Linked DNA regions of Homo sapiens: region 1 is linked to region 2. Evidence: fine-mapped expression QTL. A gene starts in region 2. The other region holds a variant in brackets. All regions are shown on one strand. Distances are between the middles of the regions.

Region 1 (15,584 bases), 180 kb before region 2:
ACCAACGCAAAGTTCCAACCCTTTAACACGGTGTACAAAGTGTGTGAGGGTTTGTCCCTGCCAGCCTCTTCAGTGTCTCATCTCCTGTCACTCCCCCATATTAATCTTGCACCAGAGCCACACTGGACACTCACATGCCAAACTCTCCTTTCCATGTCAGATGCTGCAAAAAACCTGGGGATACTACAGGGAACAAGAAGCCACAGCCATGCTCATGGCTGAAACAGATCCCTTTGGCCTCTGGGCCTTCACACATGCTCCTCATCTGCCCCAAATCCTGGCTTAGTGGTGAAGAGACATAACTTTGCTGGCCCAGTCAAAGGCTCACTGGGTGACCTTAAGCAAATTACAGTCAGCCCTCTGTACTGTAGGGGTTTAGAAGAAATACCTGGCTATCCCTGGTACTCTCTATCCATGGAGTCAACCAATGGCAAATTGAAAATATTTTGTGGGGGGGCAGATTATATCTGTACTGAACAGGTACAGACTTTTTTCTTGTCATTATTGAATTTTTTCTTGTCATTATTCCCTCAATAATACAGTATAACCACTATTTATATAGCATTTACATTGTATTAGGTAATGTAAGTAATCTAGAGAAGGTTTAAAGTACATGGGAGAGTGTGCATAGGTTATGTGCAAATACAACACCATTTTATATCAGGGACTTGAGCACCCGTGGATTTTGGTATCCATGGGGTCCTGGACCCAATCCCGCCAGCTTACCGAGGGATGACTGTACTTCACTTCTCTAGACCTCAGTTCCTCATGTGTATCTTGAGTAGATACCGCAATTGATTTCAAAATTTTCTCCCAATTTTTACAAGTTATGAACCTAAATAATAATTTTAAATTTCAAAACTGGACAAGAAGGAATCCTCAGAAATATTCCAACAAACATTTAAACTGCTGTAAGCAACACTGTTACTATGTCAAAATTGCTAAGTTTTTCTCTGCTATCACAAAAGAAGGAATTCATATTCTAAGCAAGATATGCCCTCCACTGATTCTTAGGTTCAGACATCCCATTACATGGTAGTTTTATTTAACTAAAGTACTTTGTAAATTAGAAAGTACTAAAAATGTTTTTGTCATTCCTGTTAGCTCTGTTCTATGCTAGTTTTCCATGGACTCATTATGTAAGTGCATTGCCTGCATTCCAAGGGAAACGAAGGTGACCCCATCTCTGAGGTTGTTTCTTTTGCATTTAACAAAAGTGGGCCTTTGGCATTATTTTTTTCTGGACACCCAGAATCCACACTTAAACCACTGAATTACAAATAAGTGTTCTGGAACAGGATCAGACAGTGCCAATTCTATCTTCAGCTCAAAATAAAGCTACTTTGATGTATTTTAACCTAGGTTCATAAATTAATTTTCAGAGAAAAATTCTTATTTTGAGGTGGAACAAATTTATGAAAGTCACATGTAATTAGCCAAATTATGAACAGTTTTTTATGACTCACTGGACTTTTAAAAGAAAAATGTTCTTATCAGAACACATTTAAAAGTGTATGATTATTCTACTGGTGCCAATTTCCCTGTTTTGATATTGAACTAGGGTTACATGTTCTTTACATAGATAAGGGAAGGTAGGTGAAGGGTACATGTGACTCTATACTATTTTTCCAACTTCCTATGAGTTTATATTTATTTCAAAATAAAAAGTCAGCAGCTTTTTATTTTGAATTAATAATCTGTCTAGTCAGTGATCTCCCCTGTAGTCTGTAGTTGCTTCCATCACACACACACACACGACAACTAGACATCATGTACTTCCTGATGGGAACACAGAGCACTGTCTAGGAAGGAGTCTTGCCAAAAGGCAACTATGAATCTGATCAAGCCTGCATCCAACTACTAATTCATGAGAAATACAAAGAACTGAGGAACATGCTAAAAGGCATCACAGAGATGCAGTCAGCAAGATCCAGACTGTAAGAAACTCTGCAGAACAAATGACCTCATTTCTTCAACCAATAAAACTGCAAGAGGAGACATTGAGACAGAGAGGCATAGGAATGGGGAGAGCCTGTAGATTAAAAAAGGCTTAAATGCACATCAATCAATCACAATGTGTGAAACTTAATGACATCCTGACTCAAGCAAAGAGTAACACTATTTAAACAAAGAGTAAGACAACAATTCTTTAATAAATAAATTTTAAAATTTATTAGATATCCTTTTTAGATATCTTTATCAATTCGTTAATATCATAGCTAATAAATTTTAAAATTTATTATATATAATTTATTAGATGTGTTATGATATTAAAGAATTGTTATTTTTAAATAAATGTTTTTAAAATATTAAATAAATTATCAGTGGGTCTAAATATACGTACATATATTATATATATATAACATTTTTCTTTAAGTCTATTAATGGCATCTTCCCAAATGCTTAAATTAAGTGCTTTTGTATGGCAGGTGCAGTTCCTGTACAGACAAAATAATGAACCAAAGCACTAGACAGCAGGGAGTACCAGGTCACCATGATGAAATGAAAAAAGAAGGCTGAGAATTAGACACTGGTTTAAATTTGTCCTCCTTTTCAAGTGAGATTCCACAGCTTTTCATTTGGAATATTAAACACTGCTTGGCAAAACTAAATACTACTATAGATCAGTTTCTTTCATCAGCCTGGGTGGTTCCAGATGCAGAATGAAAAATGCCCAACCAGAAAGCACTCGGCTCCATTAGCCTGAGATATGGTTGAGAAAAAACTTTGATTGCTGCTCTTGTTCTTAACGTGTTTATTACCTGGACAAATTGCCACCTCCACCTAAGTGTCCTGCAGTTCTTCTCAGCAAAAAAAAAGTGAGTGTTTTTAGGGAAGTGCTGACTAAATTTTGATTTTAGAAGTCTCAGTAAGTTAAGTGTGTTTCCCTGAAGCTCTTCCCACCAAAAAGGTGAGCTTTTTTAGAGAAGTGCTGACGAATTTTAATTTTAGAAGTCTTGATATGTTGCGTGTTTCCCCTTTGCCCAAGAATTTTTCTGCAAAACTGTTGACATCAACCTCTTACAAAAATATTTTTCTTCATTATATTCAATATTTTGGGGGAATTTGGTGGTAGAGTTCAAAGTTTGGTAAACATAGTTATCAGAAAACAGCTAAGATTTTATAAACACAATGAGCCTTCCTGAGCGTAGACTGAATTAGGGTGATTGCCTTAATCCTTCCATTTAAGAGAGATGATTAGCTTTAATAAAGAACTTGAGATGGCAGCAAGAGAGAGAAAAGGAGGTGGCTCTGATGGCTGATGTTTAAATCTGAGGAAGAACTATAAAGATATATATGGAATTCATTGCTTTGCATGTAAACCCATATACCAGCCTCCACCTGCCACCTACCCACCCATTCTAAGGTGACCTCCCTGCACTATATTTTTCCTTTCATCAGCTCCTGCAAGCAATTCAAGTTGTAGCTGCTTCTCTGCATCAGGAATAATTCATTCACTACCAACCACAGCCTGGAACTCCTGGACCACAACCCCTCCTGCTACCCCAACATAAGCGTCAGCAGACTGATGAATGGTGGCAGCCACATCACCCCTAAATATGGTTCTATGGGTCTATCAGAATTTGCTAAAAGGATTATTTGCAGCAATGCAAACAACCAGCAATTAAATGCTAAATATCCTGTTCTTCAATGAGAACACATGGACACAGGGAGGGGAACATGACACACCAGGGCCTGTCGGGGGGTGGGGGGCTAGGGGAGGGGATAGCATTAGGAGAAATACCTAATGTAAATGATGGGTTGATGGATGCAGCAAACCACCATGGCACGTGTATACCTATGTAACAAACCTGCACGTTCTGCATATGTATCCCAGAACTTAAAGTATAATAAAAAATATATATTTTGTTCTTAAAAGACCTTTAGCCATTCTGCTTAAATTAATTAATAAAAGAAATATTATTGATCCTCTACAATACATCAGATACTCTGCTGAGCTTAGGGGTTATAGTAGTCAGGGTTCAACCACCAGTAACAGAAACTGTACAAGCTAGTTTAAGGTGAGTGATTTGAAACAGAATTTCGATGCTCTAAAAACAAAAAATCATTAGAAAAACAGAAGAAGAAGGCTCCAGGCTGAGTTAGAAAACCCTGGGACTGTGCTGCTCAGATCTCTCTTCGAGAAAGAACCTGCCCTGAGATCAGTTGGCTGGCAGTTGCCACTTTCAGCACCTACCCCAGCATCCAGACGAGGCCACGCCTTACACAGCCTGCTCCAAACTGGTGACCCCAAGTCAGGGAGTAGTTAGTACAGTGGGAGTTCTAGAGCCAGGCTCCTCCTGCCCAGTGCAGGACCCCTCTGACAAGCAGGCTGTGCTTGGGTACTGTCCATCAGCCTAGCCGAGACTTTTCTCAGAGCTGCACTGCAATCCAGGTCTCTTCCTGCTCAACCCTCCTTCCTTCCCCTCTCATTTTATGGGTGATGTCAGAGCCTCATCTCCCTGCCCACTCCTGCTCCCTCCTGGCTTTATTCTTCACAGGCATTTTCCTCCATAAATCTCTCACATTTATTGGGAGAAATTTCCATCTTGACATCTGCTTCTCAGCCGACCTGAATTGACACACTAAACTTCCAGGAACAACTCCCTGAACAATGGGACAAAACTGATCCACCAAAGGAGCTACAATCCGCATGATCAGGAAGTGGGAAACTGGGTAGCCACCACCTCTACTGCTGGCTTCAAGGAATCCTCTGATACTGTCTGAGCCACCACATCCTGCTTCTCAACACTCATAAAGTTAGAGAAGAGGTTTTGAGGCTTCTACTAAGCTGCCATGATGGAAAGAAAAAAAAAAAAAAAACACAGGACCATGCTTACCAGGAAACAAATAACGGGAACAGCAGCAGAATCACAGCAACTTCCTCATAGTGTTCATGGTGGGTACTTCACATCACATAGTAACTCAGTGATCCATGGTCAATGTTTAATTTCTACTAAGGCCCACTAGCAAGCCAGGTGTTTCTCAAAAGAAGACTGGTTATTGGAAGAGGATGGCAGAGCTTTGTTTCAAAACCCTAAAGGCCTACACTAGTATTTATCTATAGGGGTCTGCCACGGACACTTCAAAAATCATTGAATGACTTGAGCCATATTTTTCTTATTGATTTTAGGAACTCTGTATGAACTGCAAAAAAAACCTTTGCCCAGTTACGTAGAGTTGAAATTATCTTCTCTTAAGTTGTGTCTTACCTTTTCATCCTATTTGTGTGCTTTTTAATGAACAGAAGTTATTTGTAATGTATAGTTTAATTTATCAGTCATTTCCTTTATGTACATGCTCTCTGTGTCTTGTTTTTAAAAACCTTTCCAACCCTGAGGAAATAAAAATATTCTCCAATATTTTTTTCCAAAAGTTTTAAACTTTCATCTTTAACATTTAGGTCCTTAACTGATTTTGTGTATGGTAAGAGTAGTAATGCACTGTTTCCCATAAAGACAGCATTTCCCACTGAGTGGTTCATTTTTCACCACTGATCTGAAATACATATTTTTTATTATATCTCTCCTTACATAGATGTGTCTGTTTCTGGACTCTCTATTCTGTTGCATTGTCCTATTGTCTACCCATGCACCAATGTCACATCATCTACAATATTATAGTACAATCAGTTCCCCAACCTCATGTTCTTCAGGAATATATTAGCTGTTCTTGGTTCTTTGCTTCTCAATTTCTATTTTAGAGTAAGTTTTTCAAGATTCACAAAAACACCTTTCCTTTTTTACTGAAATTTTATTAAATCTATTGACTAATTTGGAGATAGATTACTTCTTAATGATATTGAGTCTTCTTGTCTTTGAAAACGATATGGCTGCTCATTTTTAAATGTCTTTCAATAAAGTTTCATGATTTTTTCTATAAAGATTTCACACATCTTTGATGAGATTTTTACCTAGGTACCTTTTATTTTCTAAACTATTATAAATGCTAAGTGTTAAAATTTTGTTTTTTAACTATTCATTGTTGATGTATGGAAGTGTATTCGATTTTTGTATAATAGTCATATCAAGCAACCTTGTAAAACTCTTATTAAGTCTAATAATTTGTCTACAGACCCTTGGAAGTTAAGTTATAGCATTTAAAAATAGTTCTAATCTTTCTATATCTTCTCAAATTTTTATACTTTTTATTTCTCTTTTCTGGCCTGCTAGACTAGACAAGATATAAAGTTGAATAGAAGTGGTAATAGTGTACATTTTTGTCTTTTAAACAGAATTTTTTAACAATCCATCCTTACATATTGTGCCAGCTAATTACCTTTGTCTCAATAGCAAAAAGCAAAACAAAACAAATAATTCAATCAAAAAGTGGTCAAAAGATCTGAACATTTCTCAAAAGAAGACATACAAATGGCCAACAGTATATGAAAAAAATACTCAACACCTTTAATCGTTACGAAAATTCAAATCAAAACCATAACAGGATATCACCTCACTCTACTTAAAATGCCTTGTATCAAAAAGACAGGGAATAGATGCTGGTAAGGATGTGGAAAAAGAGGAACCCTCACACACTATTGGTGGGAATGTAAATTCATGCAACCAATATGGAGAACAGTATGGAGGTTTCTCAAAAAAGCTAAAAGTAGAACTTTCATGTGATGATCCAGCAATTTCACTACTGGGAATATATTCAAAATAAAGAAAATTAATGCCGGGCACGGTGGCTCACACCTGTAATCCCAACACTTTAGGAGGCCAATGCGGGCAGATCACGAGGTCAGCAACTTGAGACCAGCCTGGCCAACATAGTGAAGCCCCATCTCTACTGAAAATACAAAAATTAGTGGGGAGGAGCCAAGATGGCCGAATAGGAACAGCTCCGGTCTACAGCTCCCAGCGTGAGCGACGCAGAAGACGGGTGATTTCTGCATTTCCATCTGAGGTACCGGGTTCATCTCATTAGGGAGTGCCAGACAGTGGGTGCAGGTCAGTGGGTGCGTGCACCATGTGCGAGCCAAAGCAGGGCGAGGCATTGCCTCACTTGGGAAGCGCAAGGGGTCAGCGAGCTCCCTTTCTGAGTCAAAGAAAGGGGTGACAGACGGCACCTGGAAAATCGGGTCACTCCCACCCAAATACTGCGCTTTTCTGACGGGCTTAAAAAACGGCACACCAGGAGATTATATCCCGCACATGGCTCGGAGGGTCCTACGCCCACGGAGTCTCGCTGATTGCTAGCACAGCAGTCTGAGATCAAACTGCAAGGCAGCAGCGAGGCTGGCGGAGGGGTGCCCGCCATTGCCCAGGCTTGCTTAGGTAAACAAAGCAGCCTGGAAGCTCGAACTGGGTGGAGCCCACCACAGCTCAAGGAGGCCTGCCTGCCTCTGTAGGCTCCACCTCTGGGGGCAGGGCACAGACAAACAAAAAGACAGCAGTAATCTCTGCAGACTTAAATGTCCCTGTCTGACAGCTTTGAAGAGAGCAGTGGTTCTCCCAGCACGCAGCTGGAGATCTGAGAACGGGCAGACTGCCTCCTCAAGTGGGTCCCTGACCCCTGACACCCAGGAAGCCTAACTGGGAGGCACCCCCTAGCAGGGGCACACTGACACCTCACACGGCAGGTTATTCCAACAGACCTGCAGCTGAGGGTCCTCTCTGTTAGAAGGAAAACTAACAAACAGAAAGGACATCCACACCAAAAACCCATCTGTACATCACCATCATCAAAGAACAAAAGTAGATAAAACCACAAAGATGGGGAAAAAACAGAACAGAAAAAGTGGAAACTCCAAAAAGCAGAGCACCTCTCCTCCTCCAAAGGAATGCAGTTCCTCACCAGCAATGGAACAAACCTGGATGGAGAATGACTTTGATGAGTTGAGAGAAGAAGGCTTCAGACGATCAAATTACTCTGAGCTACGGGAAGACATTCAAACCAAAGGCAAAGAAGTTGAAAACATTGAAAAAAATTTAGAAGAATGTATAACTAGAATAACCAATACAGAGAAGTGCTTAAAGGAGCTGACGGAGCTGAAAACCAAGGCTCAAGAATTACGTGAAGAATGCAGAAGCCTCAGGAGCCGATGCGATCAACTGGAAGAAAGGGTATCAGTGATGGAAGATGAAATGAATGAAATGAAGCGAGAAGGGAAGTTTAGAGAAAAAAGAATAAAAAGAAATGAGCAAAGCCTCCAAGAAATATGGGACTATGTGAAAAGACCAAATCTACGTCTGATTGGTGTACCTGAAAGTGATGCAGAGAATGGAACCAAGTTGGAAAACACTCTGCAGGATATTATCCAGGAGAACTTCCCCAATCTAGCAAGGCAGGCCAACGTTCAGATTCAGGAAATACAGAGAACGCCACAAAGATACTCCTCGAGAAGAGCAACTCCAAGACACATAATTGTCAGATTCACCAAAGGTGAAATGAAGGAAAAAATGTTAAGGGCAGCCAGAGAGAAAGGTCGGGTTACCCTCAAAGGAAAGCCCATCAGAATAACAGCGGATCTCTCGGCAGACACCCTACAAGCCAGAAGAGAGGGGGGGCCAATATTCAACATTCTTAAAGAAAAGAATTTTCAACCCAGAATTTCATATCCAGCCAAACTAAGCTTCAAAAGTAAAGGAGAAATAAAATCCTTTACAGACAAGCAAATACTGAGAGATTTTGTCACCACCAGGCATGCCTTATAGGAGCTCCTGAAGGAAGCACTAAACATGGAAAGGAACAACCGGTACCAGCCGCTGCAAAATCATGCCAAAATGTAAAGACCATCGAGACTAGGAAGAAACTGCATCAACTAACGAGCAAAATAACCAGCTAACATCATAATGACAGGATCAAATTTACACATAACAATATTAACTTTAAATGTACATGGACTAAATGCTCCAATTAAAAGACACAGACTGGGAAATTGGATAAAGAGTCAAGATCCATCAGTGTGCTGTATTCAGGAAACCCATCTCA[C/T]GTGCAGAGACACACATAGGCTCAAAATAAAAGGATGGAGGAAGATCTACCAAGCCAATGGAAAACAAAAAAAGGCAGGGGTTGCAATCCTAGTCTCTGATAAAACAGACTTTCAACCAACAAAGATCAAAAGAGACAAAGAAGGCCATTACATAATGGTAAAGGGATCAATTCAACAAGAAGAGCTAACTATCCTAAATATATATGCACCCAATACAGGAGCACCCAGATTCATAAAGCAAGTCCTCAGTGACCTACAAAGAGACTTAGACTCCCACACATTAATAATGGGAGACTTTAACACCCCACTGTCAACATTAGATAGATCAACGAGACAGAAAGTCAACAAGGATACCCAGGAATTGAACTCAGCTCTGCACCAAGCGGACCTAATAGACATCTACAGAACTCTCCACCCCAAATCAACAGAATATACATTTTTTTCAGCACCACACCACACCTATTCCAAAATTGACCACATACTGGGAAGTAAAGCTCTCCTCAGCAAATGTAAAAGAACAGAAATTATAACAAACTATCTCTCAGACCACAGTGCAATCAAACTAGAACTCAGGATTAAGAATCTCACTCAAAACTGCTCAACTACATGGAAACTGAACAACCTGCTCCTGAATGACTACTGGGTACATAACAAAATGAAGGCAGAAATAAAGATGTTCTTTGAAACCAACGAGAACAAAGACACAACATACCAGAATCTCTGGGACACATTCAAAGCAGTGTGTAGAGGGAAATTTATAGCACTAAATGCCCACAAGAGAAATCAGGAAAGATCCAAAATTGACACCCTAACATCACAATTAAAAGAACTAGAAAAGCAAGAGCAAACACATTCAACAGCTAGCAGAAGGCAAGAAATAACTAAAATCAGAGCAGAACTGAAGGAAATAGAGACACAAAAAACCCTTCCAAAAATTAATGAATCCAGGAGCTCGTTTTTTGAAAGGATCAACAAAATTGATAGACCGCTAGCAAGACTAATAAAGAAAAAAAGAGAGAAGAATCAAATAGATGCAATAAAAAATTATAAAGGGGATATCACCACCAATCCCACAGAAATATAAACTACCATCAGAGAATACTACAAACACCTCTACGCAAATAAACTAGAAAATCTAGAAGAAATGGATAAATTCCTTGACACATACACTCTCCCAAAACTAAACCAGGATGAAGTTGAGTCTCTGAATAGACCAATAACAGGAGCTGAAGTTGTGGCAATAATCAATAGCTTACCAACCAAAAAGAGTACAGGACCAGATGGATTCACAGCCGAATTCTACCAGAGGTACAAGGAGGAACTGGTACCATTCCTTCTGAAACTATTCCAATCAATAGAAAAAGAGGGAATCCTCCCTAACTCATTTTATGAGGCCAGCATCATTCTGATACCAAAGCCAGGCAGAGACACAACCAAAAAAGAGAATTTTAGACCAATATCCTTGATGAACATTGATGCAAAAATCCTCAATAAAATACTGGCAACATGAATCCAGCAGCACATCAAAAAGCTTATCGACCATGATCAAGTGGGCTTCATCCCTGGGATGCAAGGCTGGTTCAATATACACAAATCAATAAATGTAATCCAGCTTATAAACAGAGCCAAAGACAAAAACCACATGATTATCTCAATGGATGCAGAAAAAGCCTTTGACAAAATTCAACAACCCTTCATGCTAAAAACTCTCAATAAATTAGGTATTGATGGGACGTATTTCAAAATAATAAGAGCTATCTATGACAAACCCACAGCCAATATCATACTGAATGGGCAAAAACTGGAAGCATTCCCTTTGAAAACTGGCACAAGACAGGGATGCCCTCTCTCACCACTCCTATTCAACATAGGGTTGGAAGTTCTGGCCAGGGCAATTAGGCAGGAGAAGGAAATAAAGGGTATTCAATTAGGAAAAAAGGAAGTCAAATTGTCCCTGTTTGCAGATGACATGATTGTATATCTAGAAAACCCCATTGTCTCAGCCCAAAATCTCATTAAGCTGATAAGCAACTTCAGCAAAGTCTCAGGATACAAAATCAATGTACAAAAATCACAAGCATTCTTATACACCAACAACAGACAGAGAGCCAAATCATGAGTGAACTCCCATTCACAATTGCTTCAAAGAGAATAAAATACCTAGGAATCCAACTTACAAGGGATGTGAAGGACCTCTTCAAGGACAACTACAAACCACTGCTCAAGGAAATAAAAGAGGGTACAAACAAATGGAAGAACATTCCATGCTCATGGGTAGGAAGAATCAATATTGTGAAAATGGCCATACTGCCCAAGGTAATTTACAGATTCAATGCCATCCCCATCAAGCTACCAATGACTTTCTTCACAGAATTGGAAAAAACTACTTTAAAGTTCATATGGAACCAAAAAAGAGCCCGCATCGCCAAGTCAATCCTAAGCCAAAAGAACAAAGCCGGAGGCATCACACTACCTGACTTCAAACTATACTACAAGGCTACAGTAACCAAAACAGAATGGTACTGGTACCAAAACAGAGATATAGATCAATGGAACAGAACAGAGCCCTCAGAAATAACGCCGCATATCTACAACTATCTGATCTTTGACAAACCTGAGAAAAACAAGCAATGGGGAAAGGATTCCCTATTTAATAAATGGTGCTGGAAAAACTGGCTAGCCATATGTAGAAAGTTGAAACTGGATCCCTTCCTTACACCTTATACAAAAATCAATTCAAGATGGATTAAAGACTTAAACGTTAGACCTAAAACCATAAAAACCCTAGAAGAAAACCTAGGCATTACCATTCAGGACATAGGCGTGGGCAAGGACTTCATGTCTAAAACACCAAAAGCAATGGCAACAAAAGACAAAATTGACAAATGGGATCTAATTAAACTAAAGAGCTTCTGCACAGCAAAAGAAACTACCATCAGAGTGAACAGGCAACCTACAAAATGGGAGAAAATTTTCGCAACCTACTCATCTGACAAAGGGCTAATATCCAGAATCTACAATGAACTCAAACAAATTTACAAGAAAAAAACAAACAACCCCATCAAAAAGTGGGCGAAGGACATGAACAGACACTTCTCAAAAGAAGACATTTATGCAGCCAAAAAACACATGAAAAAATGCTCATCATCACTGGCCATCAGAGAAATGCAAATCAAAACCACAATGGGATACCATCTCACACCAGTTAGAATGGCAATCATTAAAAAGTCAGGAAACAACAGGTGCTGGAGAGGATGTGGAGAAATAGGAACACTTTTACACTGTTGGTGGGACTGTAAACTAGTTCAACCATTGTGGAAGTCAGTGTGGCGATTCCTCAGGGATCTAGAACTGGAAATACCATTTGACCCAGCCATCCCATTACTGGGTATATACCCAAAGGACTATAAATCATGCTGCTATAAAGACACATGCACACATATGTTTAAGACACATGCACACATATGTTTATTGCGGCATTATTCACAATAGTAAAGACTTGGAACCAACCCAAATGTCCAACAATGATAGACTGGATTAAGAAAATGTGGCACATATACACCATGGAATACTATGCAGCCATAAAAAATGATGAGTTCATGTCCTTTGTAGGGACATGGATGAAACTGGAAATCATCATTCTCAGTAAACTATTGCAAGAACAAAAAACCAAACACGGCATATTCTCACTCATAGGTGGGAATTGAACAATGAGATCACATGGACACATGTGAAGGGGAATATTACACTCTGGGGACTGTTGTGGGGTGGGGGGAGGGGGGAGGGATAGCATTGGGAGATATACCTAATGCTAGATGATGAGTTAGTGGGTGCAGTGCACCAGCATGGTACATGTATACATATGTAACTAACCTGCACAATGTGCACATGTACCCTAAAACTTAAAGTATAAAAAAAAAAAAAAAAGAAAATACAAAAATTAGCTGGGTGTGGTGGCGGGCACCTGTAATCCCAGCTACTCAGGAGGCCGAGGCAGGAGAATCACTTGAACCCAGGAGGCGGAGGTTGCAGTGAGCCCAGACCGCGCCATTGCACTCCAGCCTGGGCAACAGAGCAAGACTCCATCTCAAAAAAAAAAAAAAAGAAAGAAAGAAAGAAAAATATATCAAAGAGATATCTCATTCTCATGTTTATTGCAGCACTATTCACAAATAGCCAAAATATGGAATCAACCTAAGTGATCATCAATAAATGAATGGATAAAGAAAATGTATGTATATGTACATATGTATGTGTGTATATGTACCTACACACACGCACACACACAATGGAATATTATTTAGCCATAAAAAATGAAATTCTGTCATTTGCAGCAACATGGATGGAACTGGAGGTCATCATATTAAATGAAATAAGCCAAGCACAGAAAAACACATATTGTATGTTCTCACTCATACGTGCAAGCTAAAAAAGTGAATCTCCTGGAATTAGAGATTGGTGGTTACTAGAGGCCCGGAAGGGGAAGGGGGAAGATGATAAGGGAAAAAAAGATTATAAATGTATTTACTATCACTGAACAGTACACTTTGAAATGGTAAAGATGACAAATTGCATATGGATATTTTCCCTGAATAAAAAAAAATAAAATTTAAGTGGAGTCAAGAGAAGGAGAAAGGAGCAGATATAATGACATAAGTCCCTGAATTCAGCTGTGTCTTAAGTCCATTCTTGTACATCCAGTTACATGAGTCAACAAATTATTTTTCTCCAAAACAAAAACAAGAAACAAGCAAACAAAAAAGGATCCATTTTGGCTAAAAAAAATCTATAGGCAAAATGTTGTTCATTATGTTCTTAAACTTTCTTTTTTAATTTCCACATCACCTATGGTTATGCTGTTTTGTTCACCCAAGCAACTTCTATTTGTGCCTTCTCTCCTTTTTTGATTGTTCTTCCCAGAGGAAGACTGTTAATTTTATTAATCTTTTCAAAAATACAACAGTTATCTTTCTTGAGTCTTTCTGTGGTATCTTTATTTACTTTTTCATTAATATATGCTATCTTTATTATAATCTTCCTCCTTGTTGAAGAAATTTGTTTTGCTACTATTTTTCTAATGTCTTAAGTTGCATGCTTAGTTCTTTAATTTTTAGCCTTTCTTCTTTTTTTAATATATACATTCATGGCTGTCCATTTTCTTCAAAGCGTTGTTTTGATGCATCTTATAAATTATTTGTTGTATATTCATTATTGCTCAATATTTTGTTTTTCACTATAATTTTTGCTTTAATCCATAAATTACATAAAGTATGTTCCAAAATTTCCTAAGACTGCTGGTGCAGTGATCTGTGAATGTCTGTTGGACCAATAACACAATTAGTGTTATTAAAATTTTCTATATCCTTTTTGATTTTTTAACTGCTGTATTAATTACTGAGAAAACTAGATTAAAATCTCCCACTCACCTACCAGATATGTCTGGCATGGTTGTCTCTTTACAGTTCTGTCAACTTTTGTTTTATGTATTTTAAAATGATATTAGTGTATATCAGTTTAAGTTTTTATATCTCCCTGGTGAATCGAAACTTTATTGTTATGTAGAAACCCTCTTCATCTCTAATACTCTTTTTCTTGAAGCCTCTTCTGTCTGACTTAATTTTGCTACATCATCTTTTTCTAATCATGTGGACTTTATTACAGTCTATGCTAAGAAATTGAAAATGGGTGACCATGTTCTGACCTCTTTGTTCAAGAGGCCCAAATGACTCCAGCCACATTTTTTTTTCCTTGATAGAATATGATAGCTTCTGAATTACTTACAGGTGGATTCTCCTTGCAGACAGCCTCCAGATAATCATATCTGCCATAACAGCAACATGGCAGGCTTTCCCACTCGGTGGTCCTACAAGCAGCCATAATAGCTTCTGTTCAGTGGCCCTATAAACTACTATATATCAATATGGGCATTGCTCCTTTATCTCTGGTGGCTAAATTGTTATTATCTGAAAGTTTGATTGACAGGATTCCATCTGCCCTGAGCACTGAGGCCCCAAAAAGGATCCTATAGTAACAATTACTTTTTATCCATTAAAACATACAAATAACCACTTCAAAAATGTCTTCAGTTGCAACAGTATCCTTTTACCAACTCATTTATCAAGTTCATTATCAACATGAATCTACTAACCTTACTTAAATAAGATTGCTACCATAGCTGATTAAACGAATGTGTTAGAAGACAGTTAAATGAACTTGAAGTTGGATATCAAAGAGCTTTTATTTTAATCATGCATCTGTGCATGATGGGCATGATGGCATACTGTGGGTATGAGACATGACAGAGATGACACCATAAAGTGGAAGGCAAAAGTATGCTTTAAAATCAAGCCTCAGTTGTGTTATTTGGCAGCTATGTAACCTTGGGCACGTCAATTAATCTGCCTTGCCCTAGATTTCTTCTTCTATAACATAGAGATACAAAGATCTACCTCAAAAGGTTGGTGTGGGGACTAAATTAAAATTTAAAGTATGTGAAAAAAATAGGTACTCAATAAATAAGTGTTCTCTTCACATTTCCTCCTAGTCTAGAGGAAAGAGCCATCTTGAAAGCACTGATCTAATTGAGCTGATGTCTGTCAAATGAAAATCCAGGCCCTTTTTTTTTTTGAAGAATCAGTCTTCTCCTACT
Region 2 (15,584 bases):
CCTGAGTGTTTCATAGCATCAAGCAGAAGTTTGACATATGGATCTAAAAAAGATATTGATTTAATTAAGTAATTGGAAAAGTAGCACCAATTAAACTACCCAAATAGCAGTGTAAGATATTATCAAAAAGTAACTCACAGGCCAGATGCAGTGGCTCATGCCTGTAATCCCAGCACTTTAGGAGGTTGAGGCGGGTGGATCATTTGAGGCCAGGAGTTCAAGCCCAGCCTGACCAACATGGCAAACCCCGTCTCTACTAAAAATACAAAAATTAGCTGGGCATGGTGGCACACGCCTGTAGTCCCAGCTACTTGGGAAGCTGAGGCATGAGAATCACTTGAACCCAGGAGACAGACATTACAGTGAGCTGAGATCACACCACTGCACTCCAGCCTGGACGATAGAGTGACTCTGTCTCAAAAAAAAAGTAATGTTATCTTAAAATTGGTAAAAATTGACATGAGAGGCCAAGCTTAAATCAACATCAAAGCAAGTTTGTACTGAAATAAAACACTAATACAAATACCAAGATGGTACTACTAAGCATCTTAGACAATATCAACTATGCTTTTAAAGTTCATTTTTAGTTAAATGATCAAACACGTTGTATTACGGTATATACCAAAAGACTGAGGGAATCTAGGGCCACATTCTTAGAAGTGAACAACAGCACAGTACCTAGATTTGAGGAAGCCAGTAGCCACACTGTTCTGTCCTGATCAGATCATACCGGCAATACCATGTCCCATGCTGAGTACTACCACCTTCTAAATTGGACCTGCCACTGAAGCTCTTCCACAGGGGATGGTGACTAGGGTACTACAGACTATTTCCAGTAAGAAGCAAGAAAGGATTTGGGGGGTTGGAAAGGAGACAGAAGACTTAACTAGGACCACACTACTTTCAAGTATTGAAGGGGTGCCATGTGGGACTAGATTCAGTTAATATTTCTTCAAAGGGCAGAACAAGGACCAAAGTATGGAAGTTACATGTGGCAGATTTCAGCTCAGTATGAGAAAGGATTTTTCTCCAACAATTAAAGCTGGTGAAACAATAGACAGTAGATTGAAAGAGCCTCAAGGAACAGGTAACTGTATTCCAGGAGAGGTCTGTAGAGTATCTGGCCAGCAATAGCACAGAGGTTTCCCTGTAAGGGGACGGGGAGGCCTAGACGATTCCTGAGGGCCCTTCCACATCTAAGACTCTATGGGCCCGTGACTACTACAGGAAAGTACAAGGAGCCCAAATGCCTCTGATATTAACTTTTCACATAGGCATCTTGTCTGAGAATATAAATGCACAGCCAATTATATGATGTAACCCAAAAAAAGTGAAAAAGAAACTAAGGTTTAAAAAAAATGTTGAAGGCAAAAATAGGTGAGAAAAAGAAATGTGAGATGAGAAAGTCAGGTATAGGTTACTGCTTTACCAACCTGCCCCTTGCAAGAGTGTTCACAGTAGAATAATTATTGTTAACAATACGTATTATTGAGTGAATACCAGGTAGCAGGCACCATATTAAGCACATTATTATTCATGCAACTAGGAGAATTTTACAAAATTAAAACAGTTTCAAAAGTCTGTAGTCCTTGTACTTAAAAAAAAAAAAAACCATGGTTTAGTACTTCAAAAAGGACCTGCAGCAATATTTAGAATAAAATTGCTTTGGTGAAAAAAAAAAAAAAAAAAGAGACTCCCATGAGGTCTGGTTTCCACCACCACGCCCCACCCAGGGATAGCATTTTAAAGCTGCAGGTTGACACTTTAATACCACCAAAAGACCCTCCCAGCCACCCTGCCCTTGGAAGATCAAGGTCCATTGATTCCTACTGGGGCTCATGTTCAGCACCCCACCTTCCTCACATCCTATCTATTTCCACTCTTCCTCCACTGTGTGGCCCTTCCACTGTAAAAACAGCTACCATTTATTCAGCTCAGCTCCTGATATGCTGGTACTTTACATTCATAAAATCAGTACTTTTTTTTTTTTTAGACAGGGTCTCGCTCTGTTGCCCAGGCTGGAGTGCAGTGATGCAATAACAGCTCACTGCAGCCTCAGCCTCCTGGGTTCAAGCAAATCTCCTGCCTCAGCCTCCTAAATAGTTGGGACTGCAGGCATGAGCCACCACATCCAGCTAATTTTTTTTATTTTTTGTAGAGACAGGGTCTCCCTATATTACCCAGGCTGGTCTTAAACATCTGAGCTCAAGCAATCCCCCTGCCTTGGCTCCCCAAAGTGCTGAGATTACAGGCATGAGCCACCGTACCCAGCCCCATAAAATCTATTCTTCACAACAACCCTAAAAAAGGTATTTTCCCCTTCTCTTTTTTTACAATAAGGATAGTGAGGATCAGAGAAGTTAAGTCACCTTCCACACCTGAGGAAAGGGATCCGCATTTGAACCCACATCTAACTCTGCAACCCATACTCTTTCCACTCTATTCCACTTTGAAGCACCTTCAAGGCAGGGTGCTAACTCATCTTTCTACTTCCCCCACCAGAACCTGGGAGGCACTCAATACATATTTGTACAGTAAATACAATATCATCATTCTCTCCCCTTTTACCCTCAACTCCCCTTCCTCCTCCTACCTCCCTGAGTCTCTACAAGCAGGTAATCCCAAGAAGGTTGGAAAATCTTTCGGTGGTTGACTTTTGAACTGTGACTGACTAGCTATGAAATAGTAACCTTGCTTTGGGACAAGTATGTTTAAGACTAATTTTCTGAATGTATCTGAAAGTAAACTTAAGAAGTCTATGTCAATGTAAAGGAATTAAGAAATCTTCTCTAGTGCAATGTCTCTGGGACGGGAGAGAAATTTGTCAATGGGCAGTTGTGTCCCTGTTTAACCCACAGCAGTTCTTAACCTTTGTGGGGTCGTTGGCCTCTTTGAGAATATGATGAAGCTATTAACTCTCTCCCCCGACCAAAAAAAAATACACTTTGGGCCGGGCGCAGTGACTCACGCCTGTAATCCCAGCACTTTGGGAGGCCGAGGCAGGCAGATCACGAGGTCAGGAGATCAAGACCATCCTGGCTAACACGGTGAAAACCCGTCTCTACTAAAAATACAAAAAATTAGCAGGGTGTGGTGGCGAGCGCCTGTAGTCCCAGCTACTCGGGAGGCTGAGGCAGGAGAACGGCGTGAACCCAGTAGGCGGAGCTTGCAGTGAGCAAAGATCGCGCCACTGCACCCCAGCCTGGGCGACAGAGCGAGACTCCGTCTCAAAAAAAAAAAAAAAATGCACTTAGGGGCACACACACACACATACACACGATTTCACAGACCATTTCAGGGATTTCTACGCTCTGAAGCCCATTCATGCATGAACCACTTCCAAGGAACGGTAGGTTTGCAAAACTGCTTTTATATTTTTACAGCCTTGGTATGCCTTAATTACATTTTTACATTTTTACAGCCTTTGTGTGCCTTAATTAACCTGGCTGGCACTTTAAAACTTGGCCTCACCCTTACCCTGAAGTCACAGTGTGGCTGCATAACTTATGTAAGAAATCGGAGGATCTGTCACAACAGTGAGTGACAAAAAAGGGCAGACAAATTCATTCCACAAGCCAAAAACAGCGACGAAAAGGGTCTCAGCGCCACCTCTAGTGGGGAAACTGAGCCTCAGGCTCCCAACCCAGCCCCCATGATGCCCAGTCTGTCTAGACTCTGTGCTGAACCTGAAGCCCCTGGCCAGGTGTTGCCCAGGCCCTTCCTCGCCCACCCGGTCTCAGACCCATTCTGTGGAACCACAGCCTCCAGGTCATGGCTCCTACTTGTCTCCAGCGTCTTCAGGAGCCTAAGCTGGCACTTCTGGTTGCTGGTGAAGAAGCTGGAGAAGAACCCTTGCTGGGGATTCCCCTGGGCCAGACGCTCGGGGAAGACCTGGCAAGAGACGTGTTGCTGCTGCAGCTGCTCCCCTGCCGCGGGGCCCCGCCGGCGCTCGTCCGGAGCTCCCGCCATGCCTCCCGCAGACCTCGCCGCTGCTTCCTCCTGGCTCAGGCGGCCAGAGCGAGACTGGGAAAGGTAACCTCCCTCCCGCCAACGCGACCGCCCAGGCCCTCCCTCCGCAGGGAAGAAGGGCAGCCTGGCTGGGCTGAAGACGTTAGGCGGGAGGGGGCTTTGAACCTGACGGGGAGCGCGGGAGGCGGGGCGAGAGGCGAGGGGCGGGGCGAGAGGCGAGGGGCGGGGCGAGGGATGAGGGGCGGGGCGAGGGCATGGGGCGGGGCGCGGGGCCCGATGCTGTTGGGCGGAGCTGGGTCTTGCGACTTCCCTCAAAGGCTGTAACAACCCGGCTGCCGCGGATTTCGCTGCTGCCCTCCCAGTGTGGGTGACATGTCTTTATAAGCGTTGTTCTGCAGCTTCCTGCTGCCTGCTGAGCTCTAAGGGTGTCCCGCCTCCTCGCAGACACTCCTTCCTCACCTCGGGGCGAATATTGGCCACTAACTGCTCTTGTGCCGCCGAAGGTCTCGGCCATCCTCCCACTCCCTGCCTTCTTCCGGGGCAAGCCAGTTGTCATTTCTGGCCCGCCACTTTCCCGACCCCTGCCATCCCTCAGATCCACTCTGCCCAAAGATGCCTCTGGCCATATTGAAAGCAGTGTTTTTCAGAAACGTTTTAAAACTATAAAGAATGACTAGTCACATCAAAATCCTCAAAATGTAGGAACCAACTACATTTTTTCTTCCCACCTGTACCCATTCGTTTACCCTACTCTTCTGCCCCACCCCCCACCAATAACTCCCTGATAACAAAGCGCACCCTGTTTACTTCTACCTCTCAGCCTTAACTCATACTGTCATTTCCATCTTTAAGCTCCTTGCCTCAGCCCCTATGATTGGGGCCCAGGTCAAATCTGCCTACTCCACAGGGCATTCCCAGATACCTTAATCAAAATTAATGTCTCCTGATCTCCCAATGTACAAAGCACTTTGTACCTGTTAATCATTTTCATCGTAGCCTGCCAGGTTTTATCCAATTTGTGTGTTTCTCTTTTCCTACTAAATTATTCCACTCAGCTCACACATTTATTCAGCACCTACTATGATGGGCCAGGCAAGGTGTAAGAGACTGAGGAAACACATGACTAAGAAAATTGCTAAAGATGAAGAGCAGCATGTGGTTTATGTAAGAAACATATCTGAAAAATATAGGCTCAGCAGGCCTTTAGGGTTATGAACAGTGCTTTATGTGTCATAGATGCTCAATATCTAAATTGAGTGGGATGCTAGGATAGTCATTCATCTGGAATATTATAAAAATACAAACAACTCCTATGTACATAGACTATTAAAGCCAGAAGTCAAAAAAAAAGTAACTACTTTTTAATTAAATTCACCTTGGATACATTATTTCCAATCCTCACTACAACCCTGCAAAGTAAGTATTATCTCTAATTTGCAGATAAAGTGGGCTCAGCAAAATTCAATAATTTATCTAGGACCACACAACTAGCTTTCAATCCAGTTATTGAACTAAAACACACATATGGAAAACTAAGCCATTACAATTCAGTGTGATTAGTTTGGAATACTGAAGGCAGGCTAGATATGCCTAGAAATGGACCATAGCCTATATACATTTGAAATACTATTTGGATTTTTTTCATGCTTTCTTTTTTAATACATAGATTCAGGTGGTTTATGTGTAGGTTTATTATACAGATATATTGTGTAGTGGTGAGGTCTGGGCTTCTAGTGTACCCATCACCCAAACAGTGAACATTGTACCCAATAGTTAATTTTTCAACCCTCACCCTTCCCCTCCCACTCTCCCCACTTTTGGAGTCCCCAGTGTCTATTATTCCCCTCTGTATGTCCACGTGCACTCAGTCTTTAGCTTCCACTTATAAGTGAGAACATGGGGTGTTTGATTTTCTGCTTCTGAGTTATTTCACTTAGGATAATGGCCCCCAGCTCCATCCATGTTGCTGCAAAAGACATGATTTCATTATTTTTATGGCTGCATAGTATTCCGTGGTGTATGCATAACCACATTTTCTTTAACCATCTGTTGGTGGACACTTAGGTTAATGGTTGATTCTATGTCTTTGTCTTTTTGTCATAACAATTTCTTCTTTTTTTTTTCTTTTTCAGAGACAGGTTCTTGCTCTGTCACCCAGGCTGGAGTGCAGTGGCGTAATCATAGCTCACCACAGCCTTGAATTCTTGGGCTTAAGCAATCCTACCACCTCAGTCTCTCGAGTAGCTAGAACTACTGGCATGCACCATCATGTCTGGTTAACTTTTTAATTTTTTGTAGAGATGGAGGTTTTTTGCTATATTGCTCAGGCTGGTCTCAAACTCCTGGCATCAAGTGATCCTCCTGCCTCAGCCTCCCAAAGCTCTAGGATTACAAGCATGAGCCACCACACCCAGTCACAATTTGTTTTCCTTTGGGTAGCCAGTAGTGAGATTGCTGGGTCAAATGGTAGTTCTATTTTTAGTTCTTTGAGAAATCTCCATACTAGTTTCCACAGAGGTTGTACTAATTTACATTCCCACCAACAGTGTATAGGCAATCTCTTTTTTCTGAATTCTCATCAATATCGGGTTGTTTTTTGACTTTTTAATAATAGTCATTCTGACTGGTGCAAGATGGTATCTCACCGTGGTTTTAATCTGCATTTCTCTGATGATTAGTGATGTTGAGAAGTTTATCATGTTTATTAGCCACTTGTATGTCTTCTTTTGAGAAATGTCTATTCCTGTCTTTTGCCCACTTTTGAATAGGGTTATTTAGTTTTTTCTGGTTGAGTTCCTTGTAGATTCTGGATATTAGTCCTTTGTTGGATGCACAGTTTGTAAATATGTTCTTCCATTCTGTAGGTTATTTGATTCTTTATCTTACTATGCAGAAGCTTTTTAGCTTAATGAAACTCATTTGTCTGTTTTTGTTTTTGTTGCATTTGCTTTTGAGGACTTGCTCATAAATTATTTGCCTAGGTCAATCTCCACAAGAGTTTTTCCTAGGTTTTCTTCTAGGGTTTTTATTGTTTCAGGTCTTAAATTTAACTCTAATTCATCTTGAGTTAATTTTGGTATATGGTGAAAGAAAGGGGTGCAGTTTCATTCCTCTGCATGTCTATCCACTTTGTGTAGCACCATTTATTAAATAGAGTGTCTTTTCCCATTATATGTTTTTGTTGTCATTGTCTAAGATCAGTTGGTTGTAGGTATGTGGCTTTATTTCTGGATACTATTTGCAATACCCTTCAGCTACAGGAATAAGTAAAAACGTACAAACCAAAAGCTGCAACATTTCCTTACTAAATTAGCTAAAACTGTTTCAATACTCATTGTTGAAGAAACAGATGGAAAAAAATTCATACCACAGTATCAATGGTTGTCTAGGTATTGGAATTTTTTTGTTACATTCTCCTGAAATTTTCTAATGTTCCTCAATAAGCATGTATTACCTTTATAATCAGAAAAATAAACTTTAAAAAATCAAGTGGGCTTTGGATGCCATGTGTAACTTCATCTGTATACAGTATAAAGACATAGGTATGGAATAAAAACACATTAAGGAAGAGATAATGAACAGCAAATACAAATGAGTTTTAAAAAGAAAAAGAATTACCACAAAGAAATTAGAGCAAGGGCAAAGATTTAGCTATAAGGATTTTCATTTCTCCATTGCAGCACTAATTGAGAGCAAAAATGGCCAGGCCAGTGGCATGTAATCATAGCTATTTGGGAGGCTAAGGCAGGAGGACTGCCTGAGCCCAGAAGTTCAAGACCAGCCTGTGTGATACAGCAAGACACCTCCTCCTCAAAAAAAAGGGGCGGCAGGGGAAGACATCAATTGTTTAAATATCCAACAAGAGGTATAATGGAATATATACAACCATGTTAAGTGTCTTTTTTAAACAAAATATGTTCATTAAAAGTTTTTGGGTGTTTTGTTTTGTTTTTTTGTTTTTTTGTTTTTTGAGCCAGAGTCTTGCTCTGTCGCCCAGGCTGGAGTGCAGTGGCGCCATCCCGGCTCACTGCAACCTCTGCCTCCTGGGTTCAAGCAATTCTCCTGCCTCAGTGAGCTGGGATCGCGCCACTGCACTCCAGCCTGGGCGACAGAGCAAGACAACAGCTCAAAAAAAAAAAAAATTCAGGCTGGGCGCGGGTGGCTCATGCCTGTAATCCCAGCACTTTGGGAGACCGAGGAAGGCAGATCACTTGGGATGAGGAGTTCGAGACCAGCCTGACCAACATGGTGAAACCTCATCTCTACTAAAAATACAAAAATTAGCTGGGTGTGGTGGCGCCGCCTATAATCCCAAGCTACTCAGGAGACTGAGGCAGGAGAATTGCTTGAGCCCAGGTGGTGGAGAGGTTGCAGTAAGCCGAGATCGGGCCACTACACTGCAGCCTGGGCAACACAGTAACTTTGTCTCAAAAAAAAAAAAGTTTTTTAAGTTCCAAACTAGCATATACAGTATGATTCCATTTTGAATTTGTACTTACTATAATTCATAGAAAGGGTCTGGAAGACTCCTACAAAGTATTCACATTGGTTGTCCTTAAATGGGTAGGATTTGGAGGTTTTGTGTTTTGGGGGTTTTTTTGGCCTTCATTTTCTAAAGCAAAAATAATTGCTTTTTTAATGGGAACTAAATTATTTAAAATTGTATAAATCTATCACAGTAACAAATAAATTACATATAATTGTAAAGAGTTTACCACCTGTCAGCTGTGAAAGTTGATCATATAAATCGGGTCACTTTTGTCATACCAGTTAAAGAGTGGAGAGGCCAGAGGGAAAAAACATTCAGGTCACAAATATCACTTGAAAAATATAATTCTCTACAGGCCTGGCTGCTGAAACTGCCTGCTAACACTTAAAACCAATTTAATCTAAAGGCTACTAAGACAGTCTGCTACAATTCTAAGACTAATTTTACCCACCACCGTCACTCAGCAATCAGTTTGCCAACCCCACCAAAACATTAATAGTGCCAATAAACTCTCTTGGAGACCAATACGTAACATTTCTCCTTCTTATAAAGTCTCTAACCTCTTCACTCTTCAGACATCCCGAAGACCACCCCAGTCTACATATATGCCCCAAATTACTATTTTCTTCCCAAATAAAGCATTCTAATTTCAAAGATTCATCTCTATATTCTGACTTAACAGCTTTTAACACTTAATGCTGTTTTTTAGTTGACAAATAAAAATTATATTTATAGTATAAAACATGTTTTGAAATATATATACATTGTGGAATGGTTAAATAAAGCTAACATGTACCCTTCGGCTTTTTAAAAACTAACGTCCAATTCATCCAATTCCGTGAGAGTAAAGCCTTTGCTTAGCTTTCCAGTCCTGTTAAACGGGGGGGAAACAACAAAAGGGTCCTCAGGGCCCTGCCCAACAATACGCCACATTCTGTCTAGTAAAGCCACACAGCCAGAAAACGCCAGGTGACTGGCAGGCAGATACTTCCGGAAGAAGTCGGCCCTCCGAACCCGGAAGTGAAGCGATAAGACGCACGGTGTTCTGGGAGGAGTTACGCAGGCAGGGTTGTGGTTGCTGGCTGTTACCAGGACAACCGGAGGCGATTGACCGTTATCTGCGGTTTGGAGCCGTTAGCGGGAGAGGCAGAGATATTCAGAGGTCTTTTAGGATGCGCTAAAGGGTCGTGAGGGCTCTCTTAAAATTTTCTTCACAAGCGGTTATCCAGTCGTGCCCCGCGGCCCTGCTGCTGGCCCCGGGGATCTGAGTCGTACCCTCTTGTTTTTCTCTGAGTCAGTCTTAAGGTGAAATGAAGTGTGGCCCAGTGGCTCCTCACTGTCGCTTCTCTAGTTTTCTGCCTCCTTTTAGAAAATGTAAGTTGAGAATTTCTAATTTACATCGGGATGTGTTCTAATGCGCTTGTTTTTAAAACTGTGGAAAATTTTTAAAAGAAAATAAATCTCACCAGTCATCCAGCTACCCAGAAGTAACATTTTCATGCATTACCTATTAATTTTTTTCTCTGCATATTTTTTCATAGTTGAGATAATTTAGGGAAAACCATTTTGTGTCCTTCATATATGGATGAATACAATATAATTTTGGTATTAATATCATAGCAACAAAGAAGGCATTGAAGGCTTTAAATCTGTTTACAGTGAATTGAAAAGACAGGATGAAGTGGACACAGCATGTGAAGACAATTCTTTCAAGAAGTTTGGCTGTCAAGGAAAACAGAGAATGTGAGTAGCCAAAGCAGAATGACAGTGAAAGAAAGAAATTGGGAGCCAGACAATACAGCCCGACAGTTTACGCCTGTACGGATGTACCTCTTTCACAAAAGATTGAGTATGCTTGGGGAAAAAAAATACACACTATAATAGGAGAAAATGATGAAGAGAAACTGAGGTAAAGGTAATTGGAAAACAAAATAAAGCCAGGGGTATATTAATACCCCAAAACTTCATACCAAAAGGTCCGTGTATTTACTAGAGGGGTGCCACAAATTGGGCTCTGAGGTTCCTAGCAATTAAACCAAAGGGAAAATATAAGTTTAACATGATCCGTATGAGGGAGGAGGCCTAATGGCATATTATAGAATCCTGTTACACATTAGCTGTATGAAATTGATTGGGTAATGTAAGCTCTTTAGACCTCATTTCTCCGTCTCTTAAAGAGTGGGGAGAGGAAGCAGGAGACTGTTAGACGAGTTGATCTTTTAATATCTCTTCCACTACTGACAGTCTATGATCATATAGGCCAGAGACGGCAAACTCAGATGCCTAAATTAGGGACTAAGAAAGTTTCATAAGTGAGGAAATGGACTGAATGTGACAAAAGCAAGGAGTGATAGAGATTGGAATGTTAGAGTTGATTGAGCTGTCCCATCTAAAACTCCAGCCAATTCTTGCAAAAATAAGGACTCAGTGTTGCCTGATTTTTCAGGAGAAACAGGAAAATCATATTTTTGATAATATTATACAAAACAAAACACCTCTACTAGCTAGATACAATTTGTGGGTCACTAATTTTCAACCTCTGCTATAGGTGAAAGGACCTCAACAAGAGGGATAATTGCTTGAATTAAAGAATTAAATATGAAAAAGAGGAAGAAGTCAAAAAGAATACCAAGATTTCCCCTTGGTAATAAGAAGGAGTTAGTAACATTGATACTAAAATCAGCAGAAGGTTTGGGGAGAGAAGGTGCTTTATTGTGAGTTTCTTGAACATGGGGCAAACTTATTTATGTGTATCCATAGCACATGAATCCAATTCAGCTGCTGGATTTGAGAAATCTGTGGGATTTATCAGGGGAAAGGGCGCAGGAATGTAGGTCAGGAGTTTGGGGAAAGAAGATGAAAAAGGAGTTTAAGATGTAAGATTCATTCTTTCAATAAAGTTTTATTGATTATATATCACAATATGTATTTTCACGAGACTCTAAACTGTCTGAGGGCAGAAAGCACGGGGTTTTTTTTAACCACTTACCCAGCTCCTAGCACAATACATAGTCAGTGCTTATGTATGTTGAAAAAACAAATGAAAAAATACAAAACACTGTGCTTTACAGTATAGGAGATGCAGAGTTGAATTAGAAAATCTTAAGGGAACAAGAAACACTGGGGTCTGCTTGAGGGTGGAGGGTGGGAGCATGCAGAGGAGCAGAAAAAATAACTATTGGGTACTAGGCTTAATACGTGGGTGATGAAATAATCTTTACAACAAACCTTCATGTGTACCCCCAAACCTAAAATAAAAGTTTAAAAAGAAGAAAATCTTCTTAAAGAAGTTTATAGAGCAGGGGCCCCATCTCCTTAAAAAAAAAAAAAAAGAAAAAGGAAAAGCGACTTTATAGGCCAGAAAGTAAGACAAGTCTTAACACATAAGGAGCTAATGCAAGTTTTAAAGTAGTGCCATTAAAAAAAAAAAAGTACCATGGGATTCAGAAGGGAAAGATCTTTTTAGAAGAAGTTAAGAAGTTAAGCTCTGTCTTTCTAGATAGTGGACAGTTAGGATTAGATCACACAGGTGTTGGGAGAGGAACTGATCAGAAGCAGTTAAATAGAAGATGTAGGCTGGGTGTGGTGGCTCACACCTGTAATCCCAGCACTTTGGGAGGCTGAGGTACGTGGATCACTTGAGGTCAGGAGTTTGAGACCAGCCTGGCCAACATGACAAAACCCCGTCTCTACCAAAAATACAAAAATTAGCCGGGTGTGGTGGCGCACACCTGTAATCCCAGCTACATGGGAGGCTGAAGCAAGAGAATCACTTGAGCAGGGGAGGCAGCCACTGCCCTCCAGCCCGGGCAGCAGAGTGAGACTCTTGTCTCAAAAAAAAAAAAAAAAAAAAAAGTGTATACCCTTCTTTTGAAAGTATTTGAAACTGCCAAAAAAAAAAAAAAAAGAGTGAATAGTGAAACAGTTTGAAGCCAGAACCTTGAGAATCACCCACATATAAAGAAGGTGAAGAAGAAAAACCAACAAAGTAAACAGAGAAAAAGTCATCAGAAAGCTAAGAGAAACATCAGGAGAGTGGGTTTCATAGGAACTAAGATTCCGGGTTTCAAGAAGGAAAGTTCTGTCAATATTGTCAAATACTACAGAGACAGCAAGCCATCAAGGAGGGTCCAAGTTCATTGGATTTGATGATTAAGGAAATCACTGATGACTTTAAACAATTGGCCAATGAATATAAGAAGAGGAGGTATAAAAAGCAGTAGAATTGAAAGGCTTGTTGATTTGTTTAGGGAGGTGGGGAATGGGGTTCCTTAGGAGCAGGGGAAAAAAATAAAAGACAAGATTAAGCTGCAAAACAGGACAAATTTATGAAGCAAGATTTTGGAGAATCTAAGCAGTGATGAGATCAAGAAATGGAGGAAGAGTAACATCAAGAATAAGCATTATAATTCTAACAAATATTGTTCAATTACAAGTAACTTTTTAATGTCTATCATCATGTTTTCTTGCCCAATGGCCTGGTTTCTTTTCACCTTTAGCCCTAAAATAACTTCATAATCTAAAAAATAGTATTAGAACTTCAACTTAGTAATATTTCCTAATGTTGCTTTTAAATCCTCTTTTTATAAACAGGTATTATCAGCAGGGCGTGGTGGCTCACACCTATAATCCCAGCACTTTGGGAGGCCAAGGCAGCCAGATCACCTAAGGTCAGGAGTTCAAGACCAGCCTAGCCAACATGGTGAAACCCTGTCTCTACTAAAAATATAAAAATTAGCTGAGTGTGGTGATGGGCGCTTGTAATCCCAGCTACTCAGGAGGCTGAGGCAGGAGAATCACTTGAACCCAGGAAGCAGAGGTTGCAGTGAGCCGAGATCGCACCTCTGCACTCCCACCTGGACAACAGAGCGAGACTCCATCTAATAAATAAATACATAAATAGGTATTATGGTGTATAATTCCTGATTTTTCGGTTGCTCCACATCCCTTTCAGGAAACCACCACTCACCAGCCTTAGCTGGTTCAAGTGAGGCTGATTCCCAACTGCCCACACTGCCCCCATTCCTACACTTGATTCAGACCTGACCAATGAGAACCATCATTGGTACTTTTGCTGGTACTATTTATTTATATATATATATTTTTTTTGAGATGGAGTTTCGCTCTTGTTGCCCAGGCTGGAGTGCAATGGCGCAATCTTGGCTCACCACAATCTCGGCTCACCACAACCTCCACCTCCCAGGTTCAAATGATTCTCCTGCCTCAGCCTCCCAAGTAGCTGAGATTACAGGCATGCACCACCACATCCAGCTAATTTTTTTTTTTAGTAAAGACAGGGTTAATCCATGTTGGTCAGGCTGGTCTCGAACTCCCAACCTCAGGTGAACCACCCACCTCAGCCTCCCAAAGTGCTGGGATTACAGGCGTGAGCCACCGCACCTGGCCTGCTGGCACTATTAAAAAAAAAAAAAAAAAAAAAAAAAAAAAAACTCTCCCTCTGATGTTATATTGCAGGTGCTAAAGAACATACAGACACAGAGCAGACAGGCCACCTTTGCAACCACATGGAGGTTTGTCTGATATTGAAGCTAAAGAAGCTAAGCTGGAAGACAGAGAGACCAAGTCCTGATGACATTGTTTGAACCCAGAGATCCAGACATGCCTGAAAACTAGTTTTACCACTGGACTTATCCGTTGAATGAGCCAATAAACTCTCTTTTATACTTAACCTTGGGTTTTACCTGGATTTTTGTCATTGACAGCTCAAAATATTCTAATATAGAAGTATACATCATTAAATCAACATTTCTTTTTTTCTCTGTCTTATTTTAAATGTAACTCTATAAGGTACTCTAAAAGTATTCTACAGTCTCACTAAGTTAATCTGCAAATTTGGTAAAATTCCAATATTAATCCCAAAAGTATTTTAAGAGCTTGTTTTTGTTGTTTGCTTGTTTGGGACTAAACAGAATTACTCCAAAATTCATTGAGAGAAAAAAAAACATGAAAAAAAAAACAAGAAAATAGAATTCATAAAAGGAAATTGTATTATATAACAAAGCATAAAACAAGAATAATAAACATAGAGTGGTAATGGAATAAATAAACAGTCATGGAACAGAATTCAAAGCCTGAATATATCTAAGAGCACTTACCAAATTTAATATGTGGTACATCAAGAAAAGATTAATCCAGTAAAGTATATAAGTACATTGAGCTAGATTTAGAGGAGAAAGATAATTAGATCGTTACCTTATTCCCAGAATAAATTTCAAATGGATTTGTGACTTAAGTGTAAAAATTGAAGCCAGATTCTCAATATACATTGATTGGCATATAATTGGCACAGTCTTTAGCAATATCAATTAAATGTTAAATATTAATAACAACACAGCCTTTCAATTCTAGAAATATATCCTACAGAAACAAAATATATGTATAAATATAGATAATGCAGTATTGGAATATCAAAAGTAGTACACATATGAAATAGGATATGGAATACCTATATCATGAATTCACGGGGTGGCAACATCGCAACAAGGAGGTGAAAATTGATTCTTGAGGGAAATTTTTTTTTCTAAAGCATAGATATGTGTGTAAAGCACATAAACAAATATACAGTATATATGTGGTATTGAAACTTCATGGGAGAGTAATAATTAAGAAAAAAATGTCTACACTGGGTGCAGTGGCTCATGCCTGTTATCCCAACACTTCGAAAGGCCAAGGTGGGTGGATCATGAGGTCAGGAGTTCAAGACCAGCCTGGCCAAGATGGTGAACCCGCAACTGTACTAAAAATACAAAAATTAGCCGGGCATGGTGGCAGGCGCTTGTAATCCCAGCTACTCAGGAGGCTGAGGCAGGAGAATCGCTTGAACCTGGGAGGTAGAGGTTGCAGTGATCCAAAATCACGCAACTGCACTCCAGCCTGGGTGACAAAGTAAGACTCCATCTCAAAAAAGAAAAAAGAAAAAAGTCTAAAAGGCTGAGAAAAACTGTGGTATACAATTCAATACCATGTTAAAAAGAATGAGGTAGACTTGTATGTTGACAAAAGAGGATGTCCCAAGATGCATTGCTTTTAAAAAACAAGTTGTAAAATAATATGCATAATATGGTTCCTTTTTTAATGATTAATATATGTTGATACAAATGAAAAA

Evidence for each region.
Region 1: its variant is fine-mapped to the expression of ATP23 in monocytes after LPS (Kim-Hellmuth 2017, PIP 0.92).

The regions. Positions count from the first base shown.
Region 1 is chr12:58,106,536-58,122,119 of GRCh38, reverse strand. No RefSeq gene overlaps it. Among named protein-coding and RNA genes, the nearest start is that of LINC02403, 26 kb to the right of the region's middle. The variant C/T (reference allele first, on the strand shown) is at 8,935.
Region 2 is chr12:57,930,087-57,945,670 of GRCh38, reverse strand. ATP23 (ATP23 metallopeptidase and ATP synthase assembly factor homolog) reads right to left here and starts at 4,104. Exons shown (of 6, transcript NM_033276.4): 1 at 3,783-4,104; 2 at 1-43. The coding sequence starts at 3,969. GIHCG (GIHCG inhibitor of miR-200b/200a/429 expression) reads left to right here and starts at 9,507. Exons shown (of 3, transcript NR_038269.1): 1 at 9,507-9,832; 2 at 10,118-10,201; 3 at 13,934-14,222. RefSeq lists enhancers at 2,800-2,969, 3,426-4,235, 9,081-9,581, 9,582-10,082.